7 linked regions of the Homo sapiens genome follow. The protein of the gene in region 3 purifies or fractionates together with the protein of the main gene of each other region. This does not show direct contact. Each region holds a gene or a part of one and is shown on either strand. Other genes may lie near its edges. The genes, in order: VILL, SEC24A, ASAP2, DHX40, RAB11FIP3, ADD3 and KATNIP.

The links.
Region 1: the proteins of ASAP2 (region 3) and VILL purify together in Homo sapiens (co-immunoprecipitation; one large-scale study listed by IntAct). This does not show direct contact.
Region 2: the proteins of ASAP2 (region 3) and SEC24A fractionate together in Homo sapiens (co-fractionation; one large-scale study listed by BioGRID). This does not show direct contact.
Region 4: the proteins of ASAP2 (region 3) and DHX40 fractionate together in Homo sapiens (co-fractionation; one large-scale study listed by BioGRID). This does not show direct contact.
Region 5: the proteins of ASAP2 (region 3) and RAB11FIP3 purify together in Homo sapiens (affinity purification with western blotting, with the first as the bait; one study listed by BioGRID). This does not show direct contact.
Region 6: the proteins of ASAP2 (region 3) and ADD3 fractionate together in Homo sapiens (co-fractionation; one large-scale study listed by BioGRID). This does not show direct contact.
Region 7: the proteins of ASAP2 (region 3) and KATNIP purify together in Homo sapiens (tandem affinity purification; one large-scale study listed by IntAct). This does not show direct contact.

Annotation. Positions count from the first base shown.
Region 1 is NC_000003.12:38,000,786-38,004,235, forward strand, and holds part of VILL (villin-like protein), read left to right. Parts: intron 1-670; coding exon 671-808; intron 809-916; coding exon 917-1,075; intron 1,076-1,610; coding exon 1,611-1,790; intron 1,791-2,382; coding exon 2,383-2,528; intron 2,529-3,450. UniProt on the Homo sapiens protein: Possible tumor suppressor.
Region 2 is NC_000005.10:134,662,285-134,665,784, reverse strand, and holds part of SEC24A (protein transport protein Sec24A), read right to left. Parts: intron 1-3,500. UniProt on the Homo sapiens protein: Component of the coat protein complex II (COPII) which promotes the formation of transport vesicles from the endoplasmic reticulum (ER).
Region 3 is NC_000002.12:9,205,630-9,209,611, reverse strand, and holds the start of ASAP2 (arf-GAP with SH3 domain, ANK repeat and PH domain-containing protein 2), read right to left. Parts: upstream 2,801-3,982; 5' UTR 2,508-2,800; coding exon 2,382-2,507; coding exon of another isoform or gene 2,349-2,381; intron 1-2,348. UniProt on the Homo sapiens protein: Activates the small GTPases ARF1, ARF5 and ARF6. Regulates the formation of post-Golgi vesicles and modulates constitutive secretion. Modulates phagocytosis mediated by Fc gamma receptor and ARF6. Modulates PXN recruitment to focal contacts and cell migration.
Region 4 is NC_000017.11:59,600,110-59,603,609, forward strand, and holds part of DHX40 (probable ATP-dependent RNA helicase DHX40), read left to right. Parts: intron 1-2,412; coding exon 2,413-2,507; intron 2,508-3,500. UniProt on the Homo sapiens protein: Probable ATP-dependent RNA helicase.
Region 5 is NC_000016.10:519,649-523,511, forward strand, and holds the end of RAB11FIP3 (rab11 family-interacting protein 3), read left to right. Parts: intron 1-105; coding exon 106-243; intron 244-473; coding exon 474-629; intron 630-810; coding exon 811-951; intron 952-1,077; coding exon 1,078-1,191; 3' UTR 1,192-3,363; downstream 3,364-3,863. UniProt on the Homo sapiens protein: Downstream effector molecule for Rab11 GTPase which is involved in endocytic trafficking, cytokinesis and intracellular ciliogenesis by participating in membrane delivery. Recruited by Rab11 to endosomes where it links Rab11 to dynein motor complex.
Region 6 is NC_000010.11:110,119,484-110,122,983, forward strand, and holds part of ADD3 (gamma-adducin), read left to right. Parts: coding exon 1-81; intron 82-2,626; coding exon 2,627-2,809; intron 2,810-3,500. UniProt on the Homo sapiens protein: Membrane-cytoskeleton-associated protein that promotes the assembly of the spectrin-actin network. Plays a role in actin filament capping. Binds to calmodulin.
Region 7 is NC_000016.10:27,738,644-27,742,143, forward strand, and holds part of KATNIP (katanin-interacting protein), read left to right. Parts: intron 1-1,397; coding exon 1,398-2,277; intron 2,278-3,500. UniProt on the Homo sapiens protein: May influence the stability of microtubules (MT), possibly through interaction with the MT-severing katanin complex.

The sequences.
Region 1 (3,450 bases), on a different chromosome or scaffold from region 3:
CTGTCAGGGTCAGTGTGGGAAAGGACACCCAGGCATTGTCTCCTGCCATGCAGAGGTGAGGTAAGGGAGGCGTCATCATCCCCAATATACAGGTGGGAAAGGCCCGAAGCTTAGAACAATGTCACTGCCAACACAGGGCCTACCTGGGATTTGACCAGAGTCCGCCTGGCTCCAGGCTCTGCCACCCACAGGAAGAAGAAACTACACTGACAGATGTGAGACAGTGTTTCCCCTTCAGTCTTTGAACAGGCTTTGTGTTTTCTAAATGACACTGGATAAAAGGGAATTCATTCAAGAGCTCCAAGGCTTCCCTTTCCGCCCGGCTTCTGTTGCCCTGGCCTGAGCAGCGAGCAGCTGGGAGGGGACTGAACTGCCCCTAACCAGGGTTGTGGCTGGTGGGGTTGGGACTAGGGCTGGGCATGTGGCTGGGATTGGGCCCATCTCCCAAGTGTGGTGGGTTTCAGGGGTCCGTGGGGAAAGGGTCACCTGCAGATCCTTGTACAAAGCCCAGCACAAGGCCCAGAATGGGCCTGGAGCTGAGGGTGGGCCCCTGGCCTGCGTGGATGAGGAAGGCCTCAGAGGCTGGGGAGAGCTTTCCGGTTGGGTACAGGATGGGTGGGCTGGTTCAGGAAGAGCAGCCACCTGTGCCCATTGGTCCCTTATTCCCCAGGTGTGGTGCATCCAGGACTTACACAGGCAGCCCGTGGACCCCAAGCGTCATGGACAGCTGTGTGCAGGCAACTGCTACCTTGTGCTCTACACATACCAGAGGCTGGGCCGTGTCCAGTACATCCTGTACCTATGGCAGGTGTGCCAGCCTGAGGGAGGCAGCACTCACCTTAAAGCCCAAGGGCTGGGCTCTGGGAGTGAAATGTGAGAGCTGGGCCAGGCCCTCACTCACTGCCCCCACCTGCAGGGCCACCAGGCCACTGCGGATGAGATTGAGGCCCTGAACAGCAACGCTGAGGAACTAGATGTCATGTATGGTGGCGTCCTAGTACAGGAGCATGTGACCATGGGCAGCGAGCCCCCCCACTTCCTCGCCATCTTCCAGGGCCAGCTGGTGATCTTCCAGGTAGGTCTCACCTTGCCACTCTGGCCACAGCCTGCCCAGTTCTGCATGGGCCATGGCCCCCGCACACACTTCTAAGCACCTTCTCTTTGGGCCTGGGGCCTGCTTATCATCCCCTAGTTTCCCAGAGCTTGTCCAAGGCCCAGGAGCTCCAAGGTTGGCCCCCTGCCTGAGTTTCCCTCCCCAGTCCCAGAGCCAGATGAGGAATTTGAGTTGAAAGGGAGCCAGGGGCTTGCCTGGGGCTGCACACTAGCAAACCTGGTCCCCACTTTCCACCTCCAAGGCCTGAGCACCCATGCCCCAACCACTCAGAGATGGGGGGAAAGGTCCATTTAAAAAGGGTCTGTCCCTGTCCCAGACTGATGGGATTCCTGCACTCCACACTTAGAGGGTCCTGTACTCCTCATGTGAAATCACCAGTGAGGGCCTTGATGGCTTCAAGCAAGGGTCCCTGAGCTCTGAGGCAATATGTCCCACACTGGGACAGGAAGGCGCCCCTGGGAGCCCTTGCCCAGCCTGAGGCCTTGCTCTCCTATAGGAGAGAGCTGGGCACCATGGAAAGGGGCAGTCAGCATCCACCACAAGGCTTTTCCAAGTGCAAGGCACTGACAGCCACAACACCAGGACCATGGAGGTGCCAGCCCGTGCCTCATCCCTCAACTCCAGTGACATCTTCTTGCTGGTCACAGCCAGCGTCTGCTACCTCTGGTTTGGGAAGGTACCCACAGCACTGACCACTTGATTCATGCCCAGATGTAGTGGTGCCAGGCTGGGGGTGGGTCCTCTCCACAGGGCATGCAGACTTTGAGTCCAGCCTCAGATAGGCCGATGGGGGGAATGGGGAGGGGAAGAAGCCACAGGGTCCCCTCTAGAACTTGGGGAAAGTTACAAAGTGACAGGTGGACCTGAGAGTCCGCAGGTCAGAGCCAGGCCCAGGCCGCCTCCCCTCCTTACTGCCTGGAGCACAGGGCATGTCCCTTCCCAGGTCTCTTGGGAAAAGGGGAGGCCTATGCCAGTTTGCTGGAGTTTTCTCTAATATTCAGCATAAACTATGACTGACCCTCTAAGCCTGGGGGCCTCCTATCCCATGCTCTGGACCCTGCGAGGGTCCCAGACCCTGCGATCCAGATCAACTGGGGACACAGGCCTGTAGGGTGAGGAAGATGCCTTGTTCACTGGTGTCCTGCTGTCAGCTTAGGCCTCCTGTGACTTGGGCCCAGCCCCACCCCATACACCCTGTGAACGGGACGTGGGGCCGGAGGTGAAGGCCCCTCCTCATGCAGGGCCTGAGCCATCTCTTTGCCTGCTAGGGCTGTAATGGTGATCAGCGTGAGATGGCACGGGTGGTGGTCACTGTCATTTCCAGGAAGAATGAGGAAACGGTGCTGGAGGGTCAGGAGCCTCCCCACTTCTGGGAGGCCCTGGGAGGCCGGGCCCCCTACCCCAGCAACAAGAGGTAACAGGGTTGGGAGGAGAGTGTTCTTACCCAGAGGAGGAATTGAGGCCCAGAGAGGAGGGTGGGTGACTGGGATTCACACAGAGAGCTGGCAAGACGAGACTAGAACCAAGGACTCTCAGTTTCCCACTCACAGAGGCTCCCACAAGTACAGCCCACGCTTCGCTCCCAGGCCTGGGTAACTTGCGTCTCTCAGATGCTGGGGAGAGTGGGGGCAGTGGCGACCTCTGCTGGCAGCATCCCCTCCCTGCATTGTCCTGGTCCTGGGCCAGGGGACAAAGCACCCTTCCCCACCCTACAGTCCTCAGGGATCACGGTGCCCAGTGTGTGTGTATACAGTGTCATATGATGTGTGGGTATACAGTGTGTGTGGATGTGCAAGAACAGGTGTATTCAGGGTGTTGTGTGTGGTGTGTAAGTGGACAGGGTGTGTGTAGGAGGTAGGAGTGAGGCCTCAAGGGGAGGAGGGAGCTGAGTCCTGGTCGCTCTTGGTCTGCCTGTGGGGCTTGGTTTATGTGCTGCACTCCCCACAATTCTCCTGAGCTCAGTACTCCCGTCTCCTTCTCCCAGCCTGGCTTGCCTCCTTCCACTTTGGGCCGGAGACCTACTCTCTGCCAGGGGTGGGCTGAGGAGCTCCTCCCATCCCAGGGAGGGCGAGACTCCAGCTCAGGCCCTCCCCTACCCCTGCAGCCCTCTCCTAGGGAAATTCATGGGGCACCTTGCGTCACAGCTGGGTGGGGCGAGAGCTTTCTCCATGAGCAGAGAGGGACCCTGTACCCAGAGCAGAGCGGAGTGCTCGGGGAGAAACCACGGGGCTCAGAGGAGGGCCCAGGGCTCCCACTCCTGAGAAGTGGCTTCCCAGGCCCTGGGGTGGGGCACTTGTGCCATGGGCTGGGGTGCCCCTCTGGGTGGCTCACAGCCT
Region 2 (3,500 bases), on a different chromosome or scaffold from region 3:
AGGAGTTCAAGACAAGCCTGCCAACATGGTGAAACCCCATCTCTACTAAAAATACAAAAAATTAGCCAGGTGTGGTGGTGGGCACCTGTAATCCCAGCTACTTGGGAAGCTGAGGCAGGAGAATCACTTGAACCTGCGAGGCAGAGGTTGCAATGAGCTGAGATCTCGTCACTGCACTCCAGCCTGGGCAACAAGAGCGAGACTCTGTCTCAAAATAAATAAATAAATAAATAAAAATAAAAATAGGGGGCCAGGAGCAGTGGTTCATGTCTATAATACCAGGACTTTGGGAGACCGAGGCAGAAGGAACACTTTTTTTTTTTTTTTCTGAGACGAAGTCTCACTCTTGTCCCCCAGGCTGGAGTGCAATGGCGCAATCTCGGCTCACTGCAACCTCCGCCTCCTGGGTTCAAGCGATTCTCCTGCCTCAGCCTCCGGCAGCAGCTGGGTCCACAAGTGCGCGCCACCACGCCCGGCTAATTTTTGTATTTTTAGTAGAGATGGGGTTTCACCATATTGGCCAGGCTGGAGGCTGATCTCAAACTCCTGACCTCGTAATCCACCCGCCTCGGCCTCTCAAAGTGCTGGAATTACAGTCGTGAGCCACCACGCTCAGCCTGAAATTTTTCAAAATGTTTCACCAATACTGTTAAATACTCCAGTATCAAGTTGAAAAATTGCCTATTAGGCTGGGTGCAGTGGCTCACGCCTGTAATCCCAGCACTTTGGGAGGCTGAGACAGGTGGATCACAAGGTCAGGAGTTTGGGACCAGCCTGGCCTATATGGTGAAACCCCGTTTCTACTAAAAATACAAAAAATTAGCTGGGCGTGGTGGCGCATGCCTGTAATCCCAGCTACTAGGGAGGCTGAGGCAGAAGAACTGCTTGAACCTGGGAGGCGGAGGTTGCAGTGAGCCGAGATTGCGCCACTGCACTCTAGCCTGGGCGACAGAGTAAGGCTCCGTCTCAAAAAAAAAAAAAAAAAAAAAAAAGAAAAAGAAAAATTGCCTATTACTGAATCTTACAACTGCTAACAAGACTATCAGTGCCTTGTTGACAAAAGTGAAGACAAAGATTATTGCCATGTAACTCCCTTATCAAAGAAGTGGTCACACATATCTATGGCAGTATAGACAAGTCAAAGGAACAAAGGGGCAAGGTACATGGCCAACTCAGCATGAACAAGAATGTAAAATACATCTGGCCACAAAGATGTAACCTACAACCTAATGTTTAACGAATAAAAGTAAACTTACAGAGATTTTCACAGCTTTTAGAAGACTATTTTTGAACAGATAATCATATATTTCATAAAATGAACATTTTTTCAAGTTGAAGAATTCTTATTTACGACACTGATAGCTAGAGTTTCAGAGTCTGCCCTCTCAGCCCCTAAATGAGTATAATGATGCTTAAAGGTGACCTATTAAAAAAATTCAGGAAAATTTAATATATGAACTAAAAACTTAGTATAACCTAAATACTCACAGCTTTGATACCAGACTATCAGGTACCAACTCTCAGTTATGAGTTGGAAAAAAGAAAAAAAATGAGGAATTTGAAGGTTCTTTGAAGGTTCAAATGAGAAAAAAGAAGGTTACTTTTTAGGTTCATTTTATTAGTTTATATGTTTTTATTTCCCCTTCTTTCATAAGTTTCAGCACTTTTTTTTTTTGAGATGGAGTCTTGCTCTGTCGCCCAGACTGAAGGTAGTGGTGCAATCTCAGCTCACTGCAACCTCCGCCTCCCAGCTTCAAGCGCTTCTCCTGCCTCAGCCTCCTGAGTAGCTGGGATTACAGGCACGTGCCACCATACTTGGCTAATTTTTGTATTTTTAGTAGACACGAGGTTTTCACCATGTAGGCCAGGCTGGTCTCGAACTCCTGCCCTCAGGTGATCCACCCGACTCAGCCTCCCAAAGTGCTGGGCTTACAGGCGTGAGCCACCATGCCCAGCCTCAGCACTTATTTATGTCTCTCTCACCAAATCTGTAGTGGAGACAAGGTGCTCTGAGGGTTTCTATTATAGCTAAAGAAATTTCAGATTATTGATAATGTACCTTTTTAAGAGAAGCTACACCTACTCTTAGTATTTATTTATTTTTAAATAAAATTATTTAAAAAAATAGAGATGGGGTCTTGCTATTTTGCTCAGGCTAGTGAACTCCTGGCCTCCTGGCCTCAAGTGGATCCTCCTGCCTTGGACTCCCAAAGTGCTAGGATTATAGGCGTGAGCCACCACGCCTGGCCCTTAAATAGTTTTTAAATAAATGTTTTCCCAAACTATTTTACTGTGGCTTTGGGCAAATTATTCAAGTCTTATACTTTAGATCTGTAAGAGACTGTTACGAAGATTAAACAAGATAATGCAGGCCTGGCTAGGTGGCTCACACCTGTAATCCCAGAACTTTAGGAAATCCAGGCAGCAGGATGGCTTGAGGTCAGCAGTTACAGCAAGCTATGTTGCAGTTAAGTGAGCTATGATCGTGTTACCCTACTCTACCCTGGGCGACAGGGTAAGACCCTGTCTATACAAAAAAATAAAGAACAAAAGATTAGCCAGGCACTGTGGCACGCCTACTCAGGGAGGTGAGGCGGGAGGATAGCTTGAGCCCAGCAGTTTGATGACACTAGGATTGCACCACTGCACTCCAGCTTGGGAAACAGAGAGACAGCCTATCTCTAAAAAATAAAAAGCAAAACAGAAAAACAGATAATGATATCAAAGTTTGATAGAGCCTGGAAAATAATATAGATAACATTTTTTTTAACACTTAAATTTTTTTTTTAGACCAAGTCTCACTCTGTCACCTAGGCCGGAGCGCAGTGGCACAATCATAGCTCACTGCAGCCTCAATTGCCAGAGCTCAAGCAATTCTCCCACCTCAGCCCCCCGAGTAGCTGGGACCACACATTCATTCATTCAAGTGATTGATGTGTGCCACCATATTCATTCATTTCAAGTGATTGATGCTCACTCATGGTATCAAATGAATTAGAACAAAAGTAACATGAAGGATTTTAGCTCTACTAATTGCAGGTCAGAAGATTTCCACAAAGAAACTTAAGTTTCTAGAAGCAGCTTTAATCTTTACAAGGCCAAAATGCATTCACCAGGGCCAATGTCTGATCAAAGGCTTGGAAAAATAAAGTTTCAGCCATTAACAATTTACAAGCCTGATGGAGTATATGCCATATAAACATACATAAGGTTAAAAAGGTAACTATTGATATTACTATTTCACTTGGAAGCCTACACTATTTCATAAACTTGAGGCTGTCTGCTGAGAAGTATCAACCTGCAGATCCCAATACAGAATTTTAAATGCTTTTCAAAGAAATATTGGCTCACACCTGTAATCACAGCACTTTGGGAGGTCAAGGCGGGCGGATCACGAGGTCAGGAGATCGAGACCATCCTGGCTAACACGGTGAAACCCCGTCTCTACTAAAAATACAAAAAATTAGCCGGGCGTGGTGGCGGGCACCTGTAGTCCCAGC
Region 3 (3,982 bases):
GGCAACAAGAGCAAAACTCCGTAACAAATAAATAAATAAATATAAAATTAGTTTGCTAGTTCCGTGATTCATTTGTTTAAACATAAGACCAAGAGCTTGCAAATTTTATTTATTTGTTAAATGAGTAACTTTATGTCATGATACCCTCTCATGTTTCGTCTCAGTATGAGAAGATTTTTGTTTAAAACCAAAATACTGTACACATCAATTGTTATTAAACCATACATAGAACAAGTTTTGGTAATAGACACGAACATTAGACACCTGGGAAAGAGCATTATTTAAAGAAATCCACATTGATTTACCTCAGAAAGTGAACAACTTTCAAATTTAGTTATAAAACCAAGCTCACACATACCATCATCATAGCATGTATGTAGATTTGCTTAAAGTGAAATAAACCTGAAATGATTTTAATTTTTCCATTTTGAGACTTGAACCAATTCTTGGGCTTAGACGGCAGCATGAAGCAAGCTTGCAATTTAATGAAATGACCAAATCCAGTCTCTTTGTAATCTGCTCAGTAACTGAGCTCTAGGGTAATCTCCTGCACAGCATACAAAAAGAGCTTTGGAATTATACACTGTAAACTAAAATTAATCAGAGAAAGGTATGCCAATTTTAATAGCAATTCTTGTTTGCTTGGCTTTCCAACATCTGCCAGTGTTAATAATATTTAACTGACAAACTGCAGTGGGGAAAAGCAACAGAACTTTAAACATAATCAAGCTTTCTAAAGAAAGACATCATGCACAATGCTTCCTTCCCTTAAGAAATATTCAGCTACCTTTTTGGTTGCAATCATTCCATAAACATTATTAATGGTGTATTCTCAAAACACCGTGCTTTTTAACTGGCACTTAGGAAAAAATTTCATTCACCCATCCCCATCTGCCTCATTTGAAGGCATCATCTGTAAGCCTTGCTGCTAAAAGTAGAATTAAGTGATCTGGGGAATCACCGAATTCATAGGAAAGGTTTACATGCAGCTCTCTTCCGCCAAATTAAATGGAGAGAAGGAAGGCTACCCAAGTTATATTAACAGGATTCAGAATGCTGAATGTTACTTTTGACTCCCTTTTATTGACTGTTTACAGCTACAAAGAAAAAATTTTTCCATTAAGGGAAAACATTCTGGATTTTTTTTCAAGCAATTCCTAATAGCAGATGCTTTGTTCAAATGGGAAAAAAAAAAAAAAACCAGAAAAAAAAAATAACGCCATTGCTTCATTTAAAGCTCTTTGGTGACACCCACCCCCCCACCCACACACACACTCCTGCTAGCCCAGGCGTCTTCTGCTAAAACACCTGCAATACCCAATTTTAAAACTGTAACCTGACATCCTGGCCCAGAGACATTTAATCACAGATTCACTATTGCCACACGTGTGACTTGTAAACCTATTCTGAGCCGAGCAGAGTGCTAAGCACTTCACACAGTCTCTGATCCTGGAAAGGATGCATTACTAATCCCGTTTGATGGGTAAGGAAAAGGAGGACTGCAGGTGAGGATGTGCCTCAAACCACAGCCAACGGTGGCCCCTGGACTCACAGACTCTGCCCCTTTCCCCACGGCTTTAATTTTCAACCAAGCTTCTTCGTTCCTACGTGTTCCTCTCCCCAGGACCTGGAGAGCGTACTGCTTAGCAGCTAGGCGTGATGACTTTGCACCTTGAGAGCACTTTACTAAAACCAGGCCTTTTCCAGGTTGAGGGGGAAGGGCGGCATTCCGGGTTCAAGCAGGTGAGACCCAGGTAACCGGGGAGCGGCTCCTGGAGGCTTCTTGGACCCAGAAGCGCCGACTCTCACACACCTTGCCCGCAGTTCCTTCTCCGGGCACGGGTGGAGCGCAGCCAGGCCGCCCTGGCTGAGGCGGGCACGCCTTCCCGGGCAGCCCGGGATGCCCCGGACCCGCGGACCCGAGGGTGGGGGCCCTGCGGCGCTCGGGGGCTGCGGCGGGGAGCTCGGAGCGCGGAGCTGCCCCCGCCGGTCCACTTCAAGAACAAGTTGATAAGGTCCGCACCGGGTACCAAAGACCCCGGGCGGCGGCGGGCGGCGGCGGGCAGCGGGATCCCCCGCTCGCCGCGGACCCCGACTCTGGACAAAGTTGGCCGCGCTGCGGGGAAAAGACCAGGCCGCGGAACCCCGCGAGGGCCACGAGGCCGAGAGAGGGGAGGTCTTAAAGAGGCCCAAGGTGGCCATCACCCATCTCCTCCGAGCCACCTAGGCGGGAACAAAGGGCTTCTGTCTCGGGCAGGGTTGGCCCGGCCGCGTCCGGCTTCGGAGCAAAGAAAGTTTTCTCGGGATGCGGATGCGGGAGCGGCGGGCGGGGCTGGGGCGCGGGATACCTGCGGCCGGAGCCGCCGCGCAGGCCGCCTCACCTCCTCGATGGCCGCCACAGTGTTCCGGCACTGCGCCGTGCGGGTGGTGAAGCTGGAGGCCGTGGGCGCCTTGTAGTCCTCATGGGTCTCGGCCACGAATTCCGACACGGAGATCTGGTCCGGCATCGCCTCGGCGCGAGGGCGCTGGCGCACAGCCGCAGGGGCGCCGCCGCCTCAACTGCCGCAGCAGGCTCCGACCGCCGCTCGGACACCGCCGCTGCCGCCGCCGCTCCGGCCCGCGGACAAAGGGGAGCGCCGGGCGCGGGAGCCGCGCGGGGCCTGGCGGCGGAGCAGGGGCGGCGCGCAGCCCCGCGCAGCTCGGCCGGTCCGCCCGCCTGCGCGCCGAGGGCTCCGAGTCCGCTGCCGCCGCGTCCTCTCAGAGCGAGCCCCGAGGCGGGCGCGCACAGCCGGCGGGAACTACCCGCCACCCAGCCGCGGGCCCCGACGCCTCCCGCGGAGAGGGGCGGGTCCGGGCCGGGGGCGGCGGCCGGCCGGGCGTGGGGCGGGGCGGCGGGAGGACCGGGCCGCCAATCGGCGCGCTCGCCGCTGCCGCGCCGCCGGGAAGCGGATCCCGCAGGAAGGAAGGCGGCGCGCGCCCCGGCCCGCCGAGCCGTTCCTGGCCGCCGCGCGCCGCATTGTCTCGGCGTTCCGGGCCCCGCGCGCCGCGCCCATGCCCCGCCCCCAGCCGGCCCGAGGCCCCGACTCCGACCCGCTGCCCGCGAGGGTGCGTGTGGAGGTGCGCCCCGCCGGAGTCCGGCCTTGTGCGCGCCAACCGCCCCCCGCCCACGGCGCGGAGCACCTCTGGGCTCCCCACTTGAACGGCGGGCCGCGCCGGCCCATGAGGAAAGCGGGGTGCGGAGCTCGCCCCCTGCCGGAGGATGCGCTCCGCCGGCGGGCACCCTGCGGGGACCACAGCCGGACGCCAGAAGTGACCTGACCGTGAATGTGCGCTTTGCGTGCAGTCATTGCATCGTCGCAGGCCTAGGAGACAGATGAAGAGATGGGTGCTTATTTTATATAGGGGACACAGTGTGCCCAAGAGCACAAGATAAACGGCCGGGTGGGGATTCAAACCCATGTTCCCTGACTCAAGTGTGAGTGCTTCAGAGCGGTGAGGGGCCCCTACTAAAAGTCCCAGTCGCGTTTCCTAGGCTGCCCAATGATAGGTATTCTCGGTTATAGTTTTAGGGTACTAGGCCAGGACCCACCCTGGGAAGGCTGCTGAACGCCCTGAAGTGGTATTCCCGCAGGCAGAGGAGGGAACCGAGGGGGTGCAGGAGGAGGAGGAGGGGGAGAACGTGCTACAGCAGCCAGCCAACCTCACACAAAACCGGGCCAGTAAAGGGTTCGAACTGGTACCGATTTTTATTTACAGCTCTTAAGGAAATTCTCGGTTATACTGAAAAATCCAGAAGCTCTGAAGATACCAGTCAAATAAAATCACACCCTATAACTCTACACCAGACTTGTGGCATGGTTTCTGTAGCTGCCAGCGGTAAAACCAAGAGAAACTTTACAAAAACCTTTTGTGCATCTGAAAAGGAGGAAGTGTGAGAGACACTGGAAATTCAATATGTCAGACAAAGCCGTCTCCTGACACT
Region 4 (3,500 bases), on a different chromosome or scaffold from region 3:
CACTGCACCTGTCCTCATTCCCTTTCATAATCCATTGTCTCACCTACTAGGCCCTCCTGCCCCACCAACCCAGGTAACCACTAATCTGCTTTCTGTCATGATACAGTAAGTCCTCACTTAATGTCATCAGTAGGTTCTTGGAAACTGTGAGTTTAAGCAAAATGATATACAGCAGGCCCTAGAAAAATATTGTTTTATTCACCATTGTTTTAACACTGATGAGAGAAAAAAAAAAATCTTAAAAATTTTGCTTAACTTTGCAGTTTTTAAGAACTTATCATTGACATTGAAGACTTACTGTATATAAGTTTGCATTTCCTAGCATTTTACATAAATGGAATCAAACAGTATATGCTCTTTTTTTTTTGGTCTGGCATCTTTTACTCCTCATGATTATTAGTTTTTCAATTTATATATCTTATTTTGGTAAAATAATTAATATAAAATTTACCTCTACTGGGCATTGATGATTAACCCCTGTAATCCCAATGCTTTGGGAGGACGAAGTGGGAGGACCACTTGAGGCCAGGAGTTCAAGACCAGCCTGAGAAACAGTGAGACCCTGTCTCTACAAAAAAATTAAAATAATTAGCTTGTTGTGTTGGCACACACCTGTAGTGCTAGCTACTCAGGAGGCTGAGGCAGAAGGATTACTTGAGTCCAGGAGTTTGAGGTTGCAGTGAGGTATGATGCCACTACACTCTAGCCTGGGCAACAGAGCAGCAGCACCCTGTCTCAAAAAAATTTTTTTTTTTTTTTTTTTTTACTGTTTTTATGCGTACAGGTCACTGCACACTTAAAACATTTACAATGTTGTGCAGCCCTTACCACTTCTCCATCTCCAGAACTTTTTTTTATCATCCCATACTATAATAAAACTCCATAACCATTCAACAATAACTCCCCATTCCCGACAGTGCATGGTAGCTCACGCCTATAATCCTAGCACTTTGGGAAGCCGTAGTGTGGGGATCACTTGAGCCCAGCAAGTTTGAGACCAGCCTGGGCAACACAGTGAGACCTTGTCTCTACTAAAAAAAAAAAAAAAAAATTAGCCAGGCGTTGTGGCACACACCTGTAGTGTCAGTTACTCAGCAGGGTGAGGTAGAGGATTGCTTGAGCCTAGGAGATCCAGGCTACAGTGAGCTGTGATCACACAACTTCACTGCAGCCTGGGTGACAGAGTAAGACCCTGACTCAAAACAAAAACAAAAAAACCTACCCATTATCTTCTTTCTCCAGCCTCTGGAAACCACTGTTATAATTTCTCTGTTTCGTTATGAGTGTTTTCTGTTTGCCTTATCTTAAAGTTCATTAATCTTTTCTCCTGCAGTGTCTAGTCTAATCTGCCATTAATCCCATCTAGTATATTTGTCATCTCAGGTGTTGTATTTTCATCTCTAGATGTTGGATTTCAGTCTTTAAATTTTTACATTTTATTTTTCAGGTCTCTACTTTTTGAACATATGTAATCCAGCTATACAGAAAATTATAATAAAATATAATTAGATCTGTGTCAGTTCTAGGTTGATTTTGATAGATGTCCTCATTATGGATTGTGTTTTTTTGCTTCTTTACATCATACCTGATAATTTTTCAGCGGATGCCAAACATTGTGAATTTCACCTTGTTGGGTGCTGGATATTTTTGTGTTCTAGTTACTTGGAAATGGTCTTTGGTCTTTCTTGTTGGGTCTTGCTTGCATGATTTGTTAGGTGGGATCAGAGCAGTGCTCAGTGCAGGGCTAGTTATTCCCCTCTACTGAGGCAAGGCCCATCTGAGTACTCTTCCTAACATCACATGAATTACTGTAGTGTAGTATTCTCATGTGGCTTATAGGAACAGGCGCCATTACTAGCCCTGTGAAAACACCATGCCCTTACTTATCCTTTTAAGAGGTTCTTTTCTTGGGCTGGTAGTTTCCTCACATTCATGTGCTAATCACTACTCAGCTCAACACTTGAGGAGGACCTTCTGCATCTCTCTGGAGTTGTGTCTTTGTGCACTTCTCTTCTCTCCTGAACTCTTGTCCTGTGAATTCTAGCCACCTTGGTCTTCCTGGACTCCCAGCTTTCTCTCCCTAACCCAGGGAGTTCTCTGAGTTCCATTTGGGCTTTACTTCCCTGTACCTTGGTCTGCAGTCTTTATCAAGGCTGAAGTTGGGGCAGTTGTTGGGCGTACTGCGTTTATTTCCTGTCTCTGTCCTTTATTGCCTGATATTACAGTGTTTTGGAAATCATTATTTCATGTATTTTTTCCATTTTTTTGGTTTCAGGTGGAAGGGTAAATCTGGTCTCTCTTAATCTATGTTGGCCAGAAACAGAGGTCTTTAGAAATGTGGATTTTTCAAAATAAAAGATTATTTCAAATTGTACTATGAGATTTACCACTCTCTACATATTCTTTTTATAGCAAAGTGATTTCCCAAAAGAGACCTTTGAAGGCCCTAAACATGAAGTACTACGAAGATGTCTTTGTGCGGGCTATTTCAAAAATGTAGCTCGAAGGTAAGCAATAAAGACTTGAGAGATGGATCAAGATATAATACTGTATTTGACTATAATATTGGACTATTTAATATTAAACATTGAAGATTTGATTTAAGCTCTGTGATGATTATGACATGAATTACAGTGACGAGGGAGAGCTACAGTGACGAGGGAGAGCTGCAGTGGCTCAGAATGTGGTATTAGAGCTCAAGTAGGGTAGGAGGGGTATGTTTGTAGGGTGGCTGTCCAGCATGGGTTATCTTCACTTAAGGCAAGTAACAAGAGTTTTCTTTCAGAGAGGTGGCCCTGTGTATAGTGTGAAAGCCAAGTAGGTTGAGCATAGCATCCCTGAGGAAGGGTAGCTTGGCATGGAGTGCTAGGGCTTGAGCAAGGTGGGGAGGGGTTATTTGGTTTGGGGCATCAGTCAGAGTGTAGTGAGGAAGGCATCTTTATAGAGAAAGGGGTAACAGTGATGGTGATGGAGATTCATTAAATACAGAGGAATTGAACACATAACTCTGTGAGTGATAATGGTGAAGGGAGTTAGAAATAGCGAAAGTGAGAAAATAGGAATGATCTCTGTGCTGTTGGATTGAAATTTCAGTGTATCATGATGAAGTTATGGGTTTCATTATAGATGGATGCATGGATGGACACTGGAATAAAAATAGATGTTAGTGTGTGTATATAGAATGTATTTGTATGTATGTAAATATTTATATGTATATATGCCCTAGCTCTGAGATAATAACAATGAATAGACATAGTGCCCAGATCTTGACTTGGGACATCCATCTGCCACTTAAAGGAGTCAGGGGTCTTTGGAGAAATGGGGCTGGGAAAATGCAAGATGAGCCCAGAATATCTTATTTTGCCAGCAAGTAAAGAAGTGATTAACAAAGGTTGAGGCCACGTCAGAAGAACATAGGAGCCAGCATGAAGAGGCCCCAAGTAATCAAATATGAGACACTTTAAGCATCAAAATAAGTAGTGATAGTAGCGGATTATTAT
Region 5 (3,863 bases), on a different chromosome or scaffold from region 3:
GTTGCTGTTGGGAGACTCAGAGATTGGAGGGACAGACGGCCGGGGCAAGCTGCATGCACAGGTAGGTGCGTGACCCGCATCCAGGGCAGGTGTCCACCCCTGCAGGAGAAGCAGAAGCTGTTGGATGAGATAGAGTCGCTGACGCTGCGGCTCAGTGAAGAGCAGGAGAACAAGAGGAGAATGGGGGACAGGCTGAGTCACGAGAGGCACCAGTTCCAGAGGGACAAGGAGGCCACCCAGGAGGTGAGCACCCACCCTGCCCCACGCCCAGTCCTGCGCCCAGCCTGCCCCACGGGGAGCCTTTGTTTCCTGAGACGCTAGCTCTTGGCTGTGCTGCTTTGGGCATAGCCGCTGGTGTGTGTCGTCCTCCCGAGAGACGGCCAGATCAACCCTGAGGTTCTACAGCCAAGTGATGGCTGACGGTGGCCCCTGGGAGCCCAGGCCCCCCGGCTCACTGCACGGTTGCCCTGCAGCTGATCGAGGACCTCCGAAAGCAGCTGGAGCACCTGCAGCTCCTCAAGCTGGAGGCCGAGCAGCGGCGGGGCCGCAGCAGCAGCATGGGCCTGCAGGAGTACCACAGCCGCGCCCGGGAGAGCGAGCTGGAGCAGGAGGTCCGCAGGCTGAAGCAGGTGGGCAGGCCTGGGCCTCCCTCCCTCACACTCCTGCAGAAGCTTCCACAAGACTGGTTGGGAAGGGGGGGCCGTGGAGGGTCAGCATCTGAGCTGGAGGCCTTTTTCCCCGGGCAGTCCTTGTCCCTGCTCAGCCACCAGCAGGGGCCACAGCCCAGTAGTGATGTTGCTGTGCCTTCAGGACAACCGCAACCTGAAGGAGCAGAACGAGGAGCTGAACGGGCAGATCATTACCCTCAGCATCCAGGGCGCCAAGAGCCTCTTCTCCACAGCCTTCTCTGAGTCCCTGGCTGCAGAGATCAGCTCCGTCTCCCGAGATGAGGTAACACATCCCGTGTCTGCACGGTGTGGCCTGGGGTCCACAGTCTGCACTGTCTGTGCGCTGTGGTTTATGCGCTGTGGCCTGTGGCCCATGCGCCTCAGCTCTGACCACCTGCTTGCCCTACAGCTCATGGAGGCGATTCAGAAGCAGGAGGAGATCAACTTCCGCCTGCAGGACTACATCGACAGGATCATCGTGGCCATCATGGAGACCAACCCGTCCATCCTGGAGGTCAAGTAGAGGCAGGAAGGTCCAGCCTGAGCTGGATTCGGGACTCCAACACCCTGGAGTGGTTCCGTCAGACCATGAGGAGCCAAGACCAGCAGGTCCCACAGCCGACAGTGCCCAGAGCATGCAGGGAACCCTCGTGCAGCTGAGCTGGGGCCGCCAAAGACCGGGGCTGCCAAAGGGGCAGAGGGTGGTGGAGAGGAGAGGGAGAAAGGGAAGTCCCAGGGCCCGGGGTCCACAGAGGATGAGGGTTGTGGCAGGGCCGTCCATCAGCGCTGACCTTCCGGGGGCCCAGAGCTTCCCAGCCCTGAGTCAAGCTGGCCATGAACGCGTACACTTCAGTTCAGCAGGATGGGCTGGAGAGCCTCTCTGTGCAGCGGTGTGGGGTGAGCCCTGCTGTGGCCTCCTTGTGGTGGTCCCTCTTCCCACGTGCAGCCCTGTTGGGAAGAAAGGAAGAAAACAGGTCCCTCCAGGGGTGCTGCTGCCTAAGCCACCCACATAAGTACGCTGGTGCCGTGTCACCCATGTTGAGCCGCTCCTGATGGCTGACGGGCTCCCAGACCCTCACCTCGGACATGGTGGTGGGGGAAGGACGGGTGGGCAAGGCTGGTGCGTTCCCCAGCTCTCCCTACGCTGCTCGGGCCATTGCCCAGCCAGATGTGGTCACCTCAGTCCAGCTCTGGGGCCTCCAGGCCATGTGGCTGTTCCCACGGCCCAGTCCTCGCTGCAGTAACCCCTGGGGGCTCTGACCACCTATGGGGGCCGGGCAGGAGCCTCTGGGGCCTCCACTCCGACATCAGGACCTGAGATGACCGCTGTGTGGCGCTCTCTCCCTGGGCAGGGTGGATGCCACAGGCCCCTCTGGCTCCCAGGTGCTGCTTCTCCACAGGTGCGGCCTGGCCCGGCCTCCTAAAGGCCACACCCTCCCCACGCACTTCCCAGGCCAGAATCCAAACATCGGGAACCCTGTTTTCTTCTGGGTGTGTCTCACTTAGAAATCGTGGTTCTTCCCCGAGGGTGCATGTTGCAGGAGGGAGAGGGCAGGGAAGACTCACAGCAGAGCAGGAGGGGGCCTGTGCTTCTCGGGGTCTGCACCCCAGGCACAGCGGTGTCACCCCGCAGGACCGCGGGCCTGCCCCAACCCCCAGCATTCCCGGGTGGGCCCAGACCCCATCACCAAGACTGGCCACCCGCTGCGTGTGTGTGCGCGCGCGTGTACGTGTGGCCCCACATCCGCCGCCTTCCACGCTAGGATGTAAGAGGTCGCCTCCTATTGTACATTTGGGGAAAGCCTTGGGTGTAAATCAGTGTAAACTTGGAGGAGAGATTTTTCTATCATGTAGAGTAGGTATTTTTTATAGATTGAAGGTTGATCAATTTTTTAATACTTTCAAGAGAAAACTGTGTATACACATGAAATATATATATATATATATATATATATATGTATAATATATAAAGACTGGCACCCTGCCTCTCTGTGCCCAGGCCCAGCCCTGGTGACATGGCACCACTCAGCAGTGCTGTCACTGTAAGCATGGACTCCCAGGAGACAGTGTGGGAAACGCTCCTGCTTTAATTCCCCGAGAAACGGCTCTTCCTGCCTGGATGCAGGAGGGCAGGGGCCACCACAGATTAAAGCTGTTACTGCACACGCAGAGGCCGGCTTCTTCCTCCAGGGGGGCCACAGGGTGGGGTGGGAGTCTTCTGGGCCTGGCCCAGCTTCCCTCAAGGCGTCCGAGGCCATCAGTTGTCTGAGCTCAGAACCCAGCAGACCTGCCTGGCTCTGCAGCTTGGTCAGACTAAGACCCTTCCAAGGCCGTAGGATTGCACCTCCAGGCCCAGTGGAGCCTGGCAGCTTTCCAGCCAGGTTCTGGATCCTGACGAGCTGCTGAGACAGCATCAAGGTGGGGCAGGTGGGGCGGGGCAAATTGGGCAGCACAGGGCTGTGTGGGCATCAGGGCTCTGGGTCACACGCCTCTGGGGACGTACGTCCCATGTCGGGAGAGCCGTCAAAACGTCCCCGGGATTAAGAGAAGAGTGGGGGGCAGGGCGCAGAGGCTCACGCCATAATCTCAGCACTTTGGGAGGCCAAGGCAGGAGGATCGCTTGAACCCGGGAGTTCAAGACCAGCCTGGGCAACATAGCAAGGCCCCATCTCTAAAAAATAAAAAATTAACCAGGCATTGTGGTGCGCACCTATAGTCCCAGTTCCTTGGGAGGCTGAGGTGGGAGAATTGCTTGAGTCCAGGAGACGGAGGTTACAGTGAGCTGTGATCACACCGCTGCACTCCAGCCTGGGCGACAGCGAGACCCCATTTCAGAAAGAATTTAAAAGGGCAGTGATGTGCAGGGTGGTGGGAGGACATCCCCCAGAAGAGGGGGCAGACACAGTACCAGCACCACAGGCACGGGAAGGTGAGGAGGCAGGTCCCGACGGAAGTGGGCTCCCGAGGTCATGGGCAGCCAGGGAGTCTGAGAGAGCTCAGTGCCACTGCAGCCACAAAGAATGGCCTGCGGGGAGTGGTCCCATCTGATCAAGAGTCCCCCAAAAACACAAGCCTTGAAAACTGGACCACCTGGTCCAGCATCCAGGAAGCGGACTGTGCATCTGCGGCTCTCGCTCTCCCGCCCCCCGCGCGAGATGCCCGCCTGCCTGTCACTCTCAGATGCAGATGGAGATG
Region 6 (3,500 bases), on a different chromosome or scaffold from region 3:
CATGGTGTGGTTGCACTTGGAGAAACATTAGAGGAGGCTTTTCATTATATTTTTAATGTGCAACTAGCCTGTGAGATTCAGGTAGGAAACATTATTCCCCTTTTTTAATTGCTTTGTTATTTGCTCGTTTAGTTGGATTTTGTGTACTTATTTGCAAATACATATTAGTTAGTGGCTTTTTGTCTTTTAAGAGAAGTTCTGCTCTACTTATGTAGGCAGGGTTTTCAACTCAGTTATCTCTTGAATTGAAAATAGGAGTAAAGGAAATTAAAATTTTCTCACACACAATCTAAGGGCCTCATAAACATCATTTTCCCTACAATCCTGCTTTTTAAGTTAGTACAATTGCATATTTCTGTTTTCACCCTGTAGTGGTGGTACTAATTAAGGAAGAAAAACAGCTGCAAATCAAGAATCAAATGTGTTGTGGTCACTTTTGTAAAAAGTTTGACTAGGTCCAGAAGTTATATGAAATTGCAGTTTTCAACAATTCCACAGCCTCATTATGATGAGAGGTTGGATATTTATTAATCATTTTTTTCATCAGAGATGTTGAATGTATTTAAAGGCCCTAATTTTCTTTTTCTTTTTCTTTTTTTTTTAATTATACTTTAAGTTTTAGGGTACATGTGCACATTGTGCAGGTTAGTTACATATGTATACATGTGCCATGCTGGTGCGCTGCACCCACCAACTCGTCATCTAGCATTAGGTATATCTCCCAATGCTATCCCTCCCCCCTCCCCCCACCCCACCACAGTCCCCAGAGTGTGATATTCCCCTTCCTGTGTCCATGTGATCTCATTGTTCAATTCCCACCTATGAGTGAGAATATGCGGTGTTTGGTTTTTTGTTCTTGTGATAGTTTACTGAGAATGATGATTTCCAATTTCATCCATGTCCCTACAAAGGACATGAACTCATCATTTTTTATGGCTGCATAGTATTCTATGGTGTATATGTGCCACATTTTCTTAATCCAGTCTATCATTGTTGGACATTTGGTTGGTTCCAAGTCTTTGCTATTGTGAATAATGCCGCAATAAACATACGTGTGCATGTGTCTTTATAGCAGCATGATTTATAGTCCTTTGGGTATATACCCAGTAATGGAATGGCTGGGTCAAATGGTATTTCTAGTTCAAGATCCCTGAGGAATCGCCACACTGACTTCCACAATGGTTGAACTAGAGAGCCCGCATCGCCAAGTCAATCCTAAGCCAAAAGAACAAAGCTGGAGGCATCACACTACCTGACTTCAAACTATACTACAAGGCTACAGTAACCAAAACAGCATGGTACTGGTATCAAAACAGAGATATAGATAAATGGAACAGAACGGAGCCCTCAGAAATAACGCCACATACCTACGACTAGCTGATCTTTGACAAACCTGAGAAAAACAAGCAATGGGGAAAGGATTCCCTATTTAATAAATGGTGCTGGGAAAACTGGCTAGCCATATGTAGAAAGCTGAAACTGGATCCCTTCCTTACACCTTATACAAAAATCAATTCAAGATGGATTAAAGATTTAAACGTTAGACCTAAAACCATAAAAACCTTAGAAGAAAACCTAGGCATTACCATTCAGGACATAGGCATGGGCAAGGACTTCATGTCCAAAACACCAAAAGCAATGGCAACAAAAGACAAAATTGACAAATGGGATCTAATTAAACTAAAGGCCCTAATTTTCTCTTTAAATCAAGCAGATTTGGCCAGGCACGGTAGCTCATGCCTGTAATCCCAGCACTTTGGGAGGCTGAGCTGGGTAGATCACCTGAGGTCAGGAGTTCGAGACCAGCCTGACCAACATGGAGAAACCCCGTCTGTACTAAAAATACAAAATTAACAGGGCGTGGTGTCATGTGCCTGTAATCCCAGCTACTTGGGAGGCTGAGGCGGGAGAATCGCTTGAACCCGGGAGGCGAAGTTTGCAGTGAGCCGATATCGTGCCATTGCACTCCAGCCTGGGCAACAAGAGTGAAACTCAGTCCTCAATAAATAAATAAATAAATAAAGCAAATTCTCATGAAGCAAATGGTAATAATCTTAATTTATTGGAAGGGCCACAAGAAAGGGGGAAAAGAACAACTAAAAAAAAACTTTTTCTACCAACATTAACTTGTCCTAACAATCAACTTATTTTTGCTTTAATGGTTCCTCCTCTTCTCAAATGGGGCTATGAAAAGCTTAATTAAATTAAGATAATGAGCTGATGGCTTCTGCCTAAATATCTTTAAATTCAAAGTACAGTGTTTTTGTATTTCCTTAAAATTATAGCTTTTAGCAAAAGTATTAACTGGATAACCCTGGGAAAACTTCAAGAAAAGAAATTTAAAATTTGGCAGCAGAATTCCGTGGCTTAAAATATGTTAAGAGGTATGGCTCTAATGTGTTTTCCATCAGGGAGGATCAGAGTCTTGGAAGGTTTCTTTTTCAGATAGGTGGAAAAGATACTTCAGCTGTCTGCTGGCACAAGAGTGTCATCTTGTCTTTGTTGTTAGTAGCCTGAGCAAGTATTATAGATATTTGCCAAATTGAAATTGTGCCTTTTTGAAAGTAAAATACTCATTACAGTCTTTATAGTTTTGTGTCTCTGTATATTTTACCATTGATTACAGGTGCAGGCCCTAGCAGGTGCAGGTGGAGTAGACAATCTCCATGTACTGGACTTTCAGAAGTATAAAGCTTTCACTTACACTGTAGCAGCGTCTGGTGGAGGAGGTGTGAATATGGGTTCCCATCAAAAATGGAAGGTTGGCGAAATTGAGTTTGAAGGGCTTATGAGGACTCTGGACAACTTGGTAGGTTGCAAAATTGAAGTAAAACTTGGATTTAATGTCTTCAGATTCAAGAGCAGATGCTTCCATTTTTGTAGAACATGCTCCATACTCTTCCAGAAGCTGAGTTTGGCCCTAGGAAAGCATTTCATTGTTATTTAACCACACCTTTGAGAATTAAACAGAACTTACAAATGTCGTGTTTTTTTTTTAAGATTACAATATATTGTTATTAACTGTAGTCACCATAGTACAATATATCTCTTGAACTTTTTCCTCCTAACTGAAATTTTGTATCCTTTGATCAACATCTCCCCACCCCCACCTCCTTGTAACCACTATTCTACTCTACTTTTATGAGTTCAACTTTTTTTTTTTTCTTGGAGGCAGGATCTTGCTTGGAGTGCCGTGACACAATCAGGGCTCACTTGCAGTCTCAACCTGCTGGGCTCAAACCATTCTTCCACCTCAGCCTCCTGTGTATCTGGGACATAACGTGTGTGCCACCGTGCCTGGCTAATTTATTTTTTTTTTTTTACTTTTTGTAGAGATAGGGTTTCTCCATGTTGCCCAGGCTGGTCTTGAATTCCTGGGCTCAAGCAGTCCTCCCACCTCAGCCTCCCAAAGTGCTGGGATTACTGGCGTGAGCTGCCATGCCCAACAAGTTCAACTTTTTAAGACTCTGTATATAAGTGAGATCATGGGGTATTTGTCT
Region 7 (3,500 bases), on a different chromosome or scaffold from region 3:
GAATTTATCCCATCATCGGCATGGTTCTGCACCCCGTCGTGTGAAGAAATCATCCGGAGAACTTGTTCTGAGTCCAGAAGTTACCTACAGGCTGCCTTGAGGCAGTGGTCCTCACACGGCATCCTCCTGGCTCCCTTCCAACTGCAGCTGCCGTGAACATGGGACAGTCCCCGCATGTGGACAGTGCCCTGCCTCAGGTGCTCGTGGGGTGCTCTGCCGTGGGAGCACACTCAGCTCGTGCATGTGTTGGGGCATCAGTGCCCTGAGGGCAGCCTTCAACAAGCAGTGGATAAATGTCCCAGTCTTGGAGAGACATTTGCGACATGCATTTAAGCAGAAGACTCCCATGATCTGATTTCAGTTAAAAAAAAAAAAACTCACTGCTGCATAGAAAATGAAGTGTGAGTGCAGGGATTTGGAGGAGACAACGCAGAGTGGAAGCAGAGAGACCAATTAGGAGGCGGCAGTGGTGTCTCTGGTAGAGACCCTGGTGGCCTGGGCAAGGAAGGCAGCAGCACATTCCAGGTAAAGAGGTCAGACCCAGGAAGTGTTCTGGAGAGAGAGGCGAGGGACAGCTGGCGGATTGGATGGGCAAGTGAGAAAGAGAGGGATCAAGGGGGCCACGAGGTTTTTGGCCACTGCTTCAATGATGGAGCCATTTTTAAGATAGGTGAAGACTAGGGTTGGGGAAAGTGAGATCTTGGAGTGCCGCAGAGGGCCCCCGTGGGAAGGAGCACCAGTTGGCCACAGCAGTGACCAGCTCAAAAAAACTGGGTTTTTCCTTTTTCCTGCCCTATCTTGCTTTCCCCATTTCCTCTTGGAATCACCTGCCAAATACTCGACTTGCACCCGAGTCCTTGTCTCAGCCTCTGCTTTTACGGTCTCCCAATTATGATGCCCACGGAGGCCAGGAAAGCTGTTTTATAAGCACTCCAGGCTTTTCGACGCAGATGGTCTCAGGAACTGGACTTTAAAGAACACTGCTATAGGCTGTGAAAAAACATGAAGGATTTCACACAGGGGAATGACTGGACAGATTTGCTCTGGTAGGAAATGAACTCTGGTGGCAATGTGAAGTCCAAGTTAAAGTAGCAAGAGACAGGAAGCAGGGAGACCCATTAGTAGGCTATTACGAATGTCCCGACAGGAGGTAATGATGACGAAGGCAGCGATTGAGGCCGTCTCTTTGTGAAAGTCCTTTGATTTATAGAGTATGTAGCGGTTCCCACAGAAATGAGACCAAGCCTAGTTTCACACCCCCAGCACTGTGGTTTTCAAAAGCTTGCATTTCTAGCATTTCACATTTTCTTTTCTTTTTTTGGTATCTTCGACTTCCAAAATTTCATACATCAGTCTGATGCTATGCATCTTCACTTTGTTAAATCTTATGGTTTCAGGATCTTGACATTGGTGCCAAGAACGTGAAGCTTTACGTCAACAGAAACCTCATCTTCAATGGCAAGTTAGACAAAGGAGATAGGGAGGCCCCAGCTGACCACAGCATCCTGGTTGACCAGAAGAACGAGAAGAGCGAGCAACTAGAGGAGGCCATGAACGCTCACTCGGAAGAAAGCAAAGGCACCCATGAGATGGCTGGTGCCAGCGGGGACAAGGAGCTTGGTCTCGGTTGCTCACCGCCAGCTGAAACATTAGCGGATGCAAAGCTTTCTTCACAAGGAAATGTGTCTGGCAAAAGAAAGAATTCTACTAATTGCAGGAAAGACAGTTTGTCCCAGTTAGAGGAATATTTGAGACTGTCGGCAGTCCCCACTTCGATGGGTGACATGCCCAGTGCTCCTGCCACTTCCCCACCTGTGAAGTGCCCTCCTGTCCATGAGGAGCCCTCTCTCATCCAACAACTGGAAAACCTCATGGGCAGAAAAATCTGTGAGCCACCCGGGAAAACCCCATCCTGGTTACAACCTTCTCCCACCGGCAAGGACAGGAAGCAGGGAGGCAGGAAGCCAAAACCCCTCTGGCTTAGTCCCGAGAAGCCCCTGGCCTGGAAGGGCAGGCTCCCATCAGACGATGTCATCGGTGAGGGTCCTGGAGAGACCGAGGCCAGGGATAAAGGCCTACGGCATGAGCCAGGGTGGGGGACCAGCCGGAGTGTCAACACCAAGGAGAGACCCCAGAGGGCAACCACCAAAGTCCACAGTGATGACTCAGACATCTTTAACCAGCCCCCCAACAGAGAGCGCCCTGCTAGTGGGAGGAGGGGCTCAAGGAAGGATGCTGGCAGCAGTAGTCATGGGGACGACCAGCCAGCCAGCAGAGGTAAGCTCCAAAGAGCAGCCCGACTTGGGCATCATCATCCCAGCCCCTCTAATTGGCATGAAGCCAGTTAGCTCCTGGACCTCAGTTTCCTTATCTGCACAACAAGATGGTTGTTCTCAACTAAGGGTCACAAAATCACTGTCTCAGGGGCCAAAGAGATGCATACATGAGTGAAATGGGCAAGACACATTTTGCATGGTAAATTCATAGATGTATTTGTCATTGCCACCAAGGTATGTCCCTTTGCCCATTTTTCTTGCAACACATGGCTTTTCCAAGCCATTTTCCAAAAGACTTTGTTCTCCTGCCTTTCATAGAGACATCGGTCTCTAGTCACTTCACTTTATCCTTAACTGTACTGTTAGAAAAATAGCTGGGTACAGTGGCCAGGCCTGTAATCCCAGCACTTTGGGAGGCTTAGGTAGGAGGATCGCTTGAGCCAAGGAGGTCGAGGCTACGGTGAGCCATGATTGCGCCACTGCACTCCAGCCTGGGTGACACAGCGAGACTCTGTCTCAAAGAAAAAAAAGAAAAAATAATAACACAAGTGTGATGATGCATAGCAATTGACACTTGCCTGAGTGTTGGAAGTGGCACAGGGAATAGTGAGGACTTTGGCAATTTGGAGACCATAAGCCCACCCACAGGGCGGCTGCCACTCCACTCAGGTTTCTAATAAGCATTTAGGAGTGCAAGGCCAGGCCGGGCGCAATGGCTCACACCTGTAATCCCAGCACTTTGGGAGGCCGAGGCGGGCAGATAACCTGAGGCCAGGAGTTCGAGACCAGCCTGGCCAACATGGTAAAACCCTGACTCTACTAAAAATACAAAAATTAGCCAGGCATGTGGTGCGTTCCTGTAATCCCAGCTACTTGGGAGGCTGAGGCAGGAGGATCACTTGAACCTAGGAGGTGGAGGCTACAGTGATCCGAAATTGTGCCACTGCACTCCAGCCTGGGCAAGAGAGTGAGACTCCGTCTCAAAAAAAAATAATGAATGCAAGGCCACTGTACCAGACCTCCTCTTTACTTTTTTCAAGAGAAACCAGAAATGTTTCTTATTTTTTGACTTTGGCAACTGATTGAGATTATTTTTAAACTACTGTATATGTCAAAAAAAAAAAAAAAAGGCACATCTGCTGGCAGGACTCACCCTGAGAGCTTTGTGAACTTTGCAGTAGATGATTAGATGGTCTTCAAGGGCATTCCTGATTATGAAAGGAG